2 linked regions of the Homo sapiens genome follow. The protein of the gene in region 1 purifies or fractionates together with the protein of each later gene. This does not show direct contact. Each region holds a gene or a part of one and is shown on either strand. Other genes may lie near its edges.

Region 1 (3,500 bases):
TCGAAGGTTCTAGGAGCCGGAACTAGTCATGAGGTGGTCCTGCTAGATGTTGGTCAGACTTTGTCAACTAGGCAGTTTCTGGAACAGAGTTTATGAGTATGGGTTGAGCACATAAGGCTGAATGAGCTCATGATAAAAGAGTTCAGGTTTAGTCAGTAATTGTAGTTTGGTCAGGTAGAGCCTGTTTTGTGAGTCACAGTACAGGTTAGCAAGTTATGGTTATATTTCCACTCTCAAGTAATACATATGTAAGACTCTATAGTAAAACATACTAGTTCTACTGTACACTTCCAATTTTTCTTCTTGTCCTTATGAAGCAATGCCATTGTCATATATCACAAAATTATTTTCCTATTATAAAACACCTTTAGTTTTATTTGTTGATTATAAAGCTATTAAAGAGCTTCAGAATTTAAAAATAATAATAATAATAAAAGTAACATTAGAACTACCAGCTCCTGAGCACAAACCAAGGCAGACACCACCTTAATCAAGTGAATAAGGTTAACGTCTCCAATAATAAGACATATGAAGTCACAGACCCTGATGTAATGCACTAAGTAGGCCACACCATCACTTCCAGGGTACTCTTGCCAAAAGTGTTTACCCTCAATCTAACCATGAGAAAATAAACATCAAACACAAAGGAAAGGACATTCTATAAAATTGACCAGTACTCTTCAAAAGTGTCAAAATCATAAAAGACAAAGAAATAGTAAGAAACTGTCACAGATTGGAAATGACTTAAGACATTACAATTAAATCCAACGTGTGATCCTAGAAAAGGGACATCAGTGAAAAAACTAGCAAAGTTCAAAAAATGTGTCTGTAGATTAATGATATTGCATTAAAATTAACTTACTGATTTTGACAATCGTACCATGGTAATGTTAACATTAAGAGAAGCTGGGTGAAGGGTATATGAGAATTCTCTGTAATATTTCTGCAACTTTTCTGCAAGCTTAAAATTATCCCAAAAACTCTCCCAAAAGTAACAAATAATCAAATATATATGTAGTGTTTGGGCAGGAAATTATAATGTAAAATATAACCTTATAAGTAACAGCTGATTGGACCAGGGGCTTCTAAGAATGTCCACAAGAAAGATTAAAAAATGTCAATCAATAAATATGTCCTCAGCAAGTACTTCAAATGTAGTATGTCCTATGTTTCAGGTGCCAAAGGGCCCATTACAGAAAGTCTTCAAATAACGTTATTTTGTTCAACATTATTTTGTTATAAAGTTGATGAGTATTTTTAAAAATTGTTTCCTGGCTGGGGCCACTGTCTGTGTGGAGTTTGCATGTTCTCCTGACGTCTGCGTGAACTTTCTCCCAGTACTCTGGTTTCCTTCCACATCTCAATGATGTACGTGTCTGCAGAACTGGCATGTCTAAATAGCCCCAGTGTGAGTGAGTATGGGAGTGTGTGTGAGCGTGTCCCGTGCTGGGATGGCTTCATACCTTGCAGCCTGAGCTGCCAGAGGCCACTCAGAATCCTAAACTGGAATAAGCGGGTTGGTAAATAAATGAATGAATAAGTGAATAAATGAATGAATACAAATTACTGTAAAATAAAAATTCATAAATCTATGATAATCATACAAACGCATGACAATAAAGATGCAGTACACAAGTGCTCAGCAAGCTCACCACATTTGTTATTGTTTGCTTTTTGTTTTTTGTTTTTAGAGACAGAGTCTAACTGTTGTGGCTCAGGCTGGACTGCAGTGGCACGTTCCTAACTCACTGCAGCCTCAAACTCCCAGGCTTAAGCAATCTTCTCACCTTAGCATCCTGAGTTGCTGGAACTACAAGCATGTACCACCACACCTGGCTAATTTTTAAATTTTTTTGAAGAGACAGGGTCTCGCTCTGTTGAACAGGCTATTGTTTGCTTTTGAATACATGGTGGTAAGAGGTGCTTCTCACAAATTTCACTTTGCAAACACATACTCTTAGATTTAATCCACCACCACTATGACCACCATCACTCACTGATTCACCAAAAATTGGGTAAATAATTATCTTACTTGTTTAGGCTCACATTAATTTCAATGTTTAATATTAGATGTGTTTTGGGTCTTTATTTTATTTTTTATGGTTTTTTTGAGACGGAGTGTTGCTCTGTCACCCAGGCTGGAGTGCAGTGGCGCCATCTCAGCTCACTGCAAGCTCTGCCTCCCAGGTTCATGCCATTCTCCTGCCTCAGTCTCCTGAGTAGCTGGGACTACAGGCGCCCGCCACCGTGCCCAGCTAATTTTCTGTATTTTTAGTAGAGACGGGGTTTCACTGTGTTAGCCAGGATGGTCTCGATCTCCTGACCTCGTGATCTGCCCGCCTCAGCCTCCCAAAGTGCCGGGATTACAGGCTTGAGCCACAGTGCCCAGCCTTGGGTCTTTATTTAGAAGTTTGGTGATGTTATTATGACCAGAAATATGCTATAGGAACTTAATTCTTGTTTATAACAATTAGCATATGGTAAAATTGCTCTCATTATACATTGTTTCACTTAAAGTTGCAGTCTCCAAAGCCCTACCGAAGACATTAAATGATGACTTACTGTATGGTAAAACTGTAGAAACGAAAATAGAATGAGGGTGAATTTTGGAGTTGTAAGATATTACAGATCACAAAGTCCTACTCCTTCATTTTAAAGTGAAGGATTCTGAGACCACGTAAAACACAGTGACTTGAAAAAACATAATTTTGTAACTTCAGTCAAAACAAGCCATGAAGAAGTGAGGCTACCCCAGAAGTCACAGTAAGAGGAAAAATTAAGCTGGAGAAAAAATTAAGCTACATCTTCACCTCTCAGCATTTACTAAAATAAATTTCAGCCAGAAAGATTTAAAAATTAAGAATAAAAAACAAAGCCATAAAGAATCTAAAAGAAAATTTAGGTGAAATATTTTTTTCTTTCATATATTAGGACAGAAAAGAACTTCCTAAGTATAAAGGCAAAAATGTCAGAAAAAAAAAGCATACATTTAAAAGTTAACCATATCAAAAGCAGAACAATATTTAAAATCAAACAACTGAGAAAATTTATGCAACAAATATGACATATATAGGACCAGCATCCTGAACATATGCAGATCAATAAGTAATAAATCAATAAACAATAACAACAGACATGCCAACAGAAAATTAGGCAAAGGATACCAAACAGGTAATTCAAAGGAAAATTAAGTGGTCAAAAAAATTTGGAAAAAGGTACAACCTATAATAATTTTTAAAATGCTAACTACAAGATGTCATTCTTGATCGAACATATTAAAGATTAAATAATGACTCTTCTCAATACTGGAAAAGTTGCAGAGACAGAGACTCTCACGCTCTGCTAGTAAAAGGACTAGTACAATTTTTTTAAATTTGTCAGTATACATCAAAATCCTTGAAAACATAATTATGCTTTGATTTGAATTAGCTAGTGATTGTCTAAGTGTGGCTGTGGACTTGGAGTCCCTGAGACCCTCTCACAGGTCTACAGGGTCAACA
Region 2 (3,500 bases), about 28 Mb from region 1:
CCATTCTCAGAGTCTCCCTGGGAGGCAAAGCTTATATGGCAAAGCAACATTATTAAGGGACAAAACTCCCTGGCACCAGGATGTATTCTTAGCTGAACATACTGCATCTTTCAGCCCAATTATAATCTGAAGGGCAGCCACCCAATCAGTCCCTGCACCTCTATGTGAGAAAATGGGTTCCATTTGCTTCTCTGTTAGAGACAATCATGGACATTTACACTTAAATCCAACATAAAGCTAAGCAATATTAATCCTTTCATCCACAGACTATCACTGGGCTTAGAAGGTTGCAACATAAGTACTCTAAAATTTAGATAGGAGAATGAAGGTCATCCTCAGAAGTACTTTTTAGCACAGGAAGAATAATGATTATGAATATGGATATATGGCAAGAGTTTCTTGAAGCCAGATGTAGGGAACAGTCTAATGGGCCTGGAACAGAAGCAACAACTGCTAGTACTCCTAAGCCTCTTTAAAACAGTATTATCCATCTGTACCCGAGAGAAAATAGCAAATCACAGCCAGCACAGGATGAGCCAAGCTAGTAACCAGCTGGAACCTGACTCTGCTGAAGTGGACTATAGCATCTGCCACCTAAACACAGGCAGCCTCTCTGGCAGCTGCCACTGGTAAAAGGGAATGAGCCACTGTATTATTAGTGGAAGAAACTCACAGACCTGCTACTGGAGAAGCCCAGATGTTGCTAAGAGCTACAGATGTGCCAGAGGCAAAGACCAAAATACCGACAGCAAAGAAAGCATGAGCTACCACTGGAATACAGGCACTAAGAGGGCACCACCACCCAAACATACACATCCAGCCTTTATTTATTAACACTTACATATGGAAATAGGTATTCCCTGCTGCAGCTGATCTAATTACAGAGAAATCAATTTATACTGCATCTGCTGGGATCAGCTGAAAGCACAGGATGAGCAGAGCACAGAGCAGAAAATCAAGAGCCAATGAACAGCTCACCACAAGGCCACTGTTTTGCAGGAATAAGCTGCTGAAGTTTAATGCTGCCTGAGCTGACCCTAGACTCACACCCATTCTCCTCCAGCCCTGCAAGTTCCATTTCCTAAAGCATGAACTAAGATCATCTTCCCAGAGGAGGGACTCAGTTCTAACCCCTCCTGGGGCTGCAGGCACCTGTCCTTCCAAGTCAAGCAGAAGGCAAGGTATCATTACACTGTTGGCAGCTATTAAACCACGAGGAGACTTTGATTCCTAATAGTTGTGGGAGATACCTGGCATGAAGCTACACCTTTAATGGCCAATCTCTTCCTAGGCCAAACTGTCATAACCACAACAATAACTCATAAGATCTAAGTACCTCAAAGTACAATGAGTACCTCTTGCCCTCAAAATGTGCCCCTTCGCTCTTTGGTAGCCGGCAATAGAACACTTCGTAGATATGCCATGAAATTTAGCCCTTTGTTCTACCAGAGACCCAACAGCACCATTTATCCCATCAAGAACCGTACTCAATCTACATTATCACCAAAGGCGTATTGTTTATCAACTATTATGAGTCTGATGATGAAATGCCAGTCAAGCTGGGAAACAAATAAAGGTCTGATGCCAATCTCTACCAACAAGTGTCTGAGGTGGGCAAAGACAAGGTGGGAAGGTCTCAACTCAGACTACAGAAAGTTCATTCTACAAAGTAGCTGCCCCCAACAACAAATATCCTGTTCCACAATGTCCAGGCCTGCTGTAAATGAGTCTGTAGGGGAATCCTCTAATTTGGAAGAAAACCACATTATCATTACCAGCTGCTCTGACCTTGTAATTGGTCATTACCCACACACTAATGAGCCTCCCACAGAGTACACATAGTATTTGGCAGTTAGTCCAGGGCAGTTCTGACTGGCAGTCAGTGGGCAGCCATATCTGGCCACCTCTTACCTTTTCAGACTTGACTTTCTTTAGCAGGCGACACTCATTCTCCCCTTCCTCTGGCTCCGGTTTAGTTCCCAAAGGATTGAGCGCTGCCCCAGGCTCAATAGCTATACTCCCAAGTGGCTCCACAGCTCCTGTATCCACCCCTGCACTTCCATCATACTGACCACCCCGTCCTCCCAAGGGAACTGGCTGGAGGACCCCAGGATCCTTTTCTGAACAAGTCCCCACTCCTTCGCTTCTCTCCTTCTTGCTCTTAGATGAGCTGTTCTCCTTCTCCTTTTTGGAACCGGCTACACTGCGGGATGCCTTAGCCGCCTTCTCTGAGCCCTTGGGAGCAATAGCAGCAACCAGGCCTCCAGCATTGGCACCATCTCCTGAGCGCCCCTGCACCTCTTTCTTGCTAGCTGCCCCCTCACTTGGAGTGAACAGGGAAGTCCCTGGAGTGGGTTTGCTAGTGTCTTTGCCACTCTTACTCCTTTTGGATTTTGATTTGCCTTCCTTCCCTTGAGGACCTGGCACTGGGGTCACAAACTTGATGTTGTCTGGTAGTGTGGCCACAGCATTGGGAGCCGGTATCCCCACCTCCTTTGAGCCTGACATTTCCAGTTTCTGCTGGTCCTTTTCCAGATCGGCGTCCAGGTCAATGATGAGATTCCCTACTCCAATGTCCCATTCATCCCCACTGTCGTATGTCTCAACCGGGTTTGCATCCACTCCTTTCCCTCCGGAGGCTCCACTGCTCAAGGACATCTTAGAGTCAACGTCCCACCTCAAGATTCAAGGCTCTTCCTTGCCCCCAGCTTTCCTATTTTCAGCTTCAGCTATGTTCTCAGACCTGCCACATTGGTCAGTACATGCCCAGTGGACAACATCATTGCTGGAAAAAGAAAATTTAAAAAGCTGTTAAAAGAAACAATACAGGCAAGAGACGCCTGAAATAAACTCCCACACAAAAACAGACCCTTCCTATGGGGCTATCATATCACAACAGACATGACAAACAGGTTCAATTGTATTTCTAACCAAGTTACATTGGACCTAAGGAAAAATCAATTCCCACTCCATCTCCCTAGGGGAAAGTACAGTATTTCCAATTGCCCAGAGATTCCATGGTAAGTCTTAACTAGGAGTCCTCTAGAGTTAATTTCCCACTCCTAAGAGACCTATTTCTACTACCACTGTCAGCTGGCAACCCTTCCTCAATCAATACAGGTCCTGGCATATCACAGATGCAAGCTCTAGCACAACTTTACTTATACCCCCATTTCTCCTTGCTTTTTCTTACATTATCAGAGACGCAGAACATGATCTAGCAAAAGCTTTAAAAACTCTCTAACAGGGTCTATCTCTAGTACAAATAGTATAGATTCCTCCTACTATTGGGAAGGAAAAGTCTTATGGTTAAGAATGAAAGAGAAAAACAAGCAGAACTGGGGAAAATGCAACTTCAGGACAGGGGGCTAAGACTTGAACTAGAGGAGACAATCTCAGAGGGGACTCAACCAATCAGCTTAAGTTCAGAGAAGCTGAAACAGCCTTCTAAAACTCCAGGTTTCAAATTATTATCTCAATAGCAGGATTCAAAGTGGCCT

The links.
Region 2: the proteins of CDIN1 (region 1) and ZNF609 purify together in Homo sapiens (affinity purification with mass spectrometry; one large-scale study listed by BioGRID and IntAct). This does not show direct contact.

What each region holds. Positions count from the first base shown.
Region 1 is NC_000015.10:36,582,626-36,586,125, reverse strand, and holds part of CDIN1 (CDAN1-interacting nuclease 1), read right to left. Parts: intron 1-3,500. UniProt on the Homo sapiens protein: Plays a role in erythroid cell differentiation.
Region 2 is NC_000015.10:64,498,578-64,502,077, reverse strand, and holds part of ZNF609 (zinc finger protein 609), read right to left. Parts: intron 2,786-3,500; 5' UTR 2,659-2,785; coding exon 1,912-2,658; intron 1-1,911. UniProt on the Homo sapiens protein: Transcription factor, which activates RAG1, and possibly RAG2, transcription. Through the regulation of RAG1/2 expression, may regulate thymocyte maturation.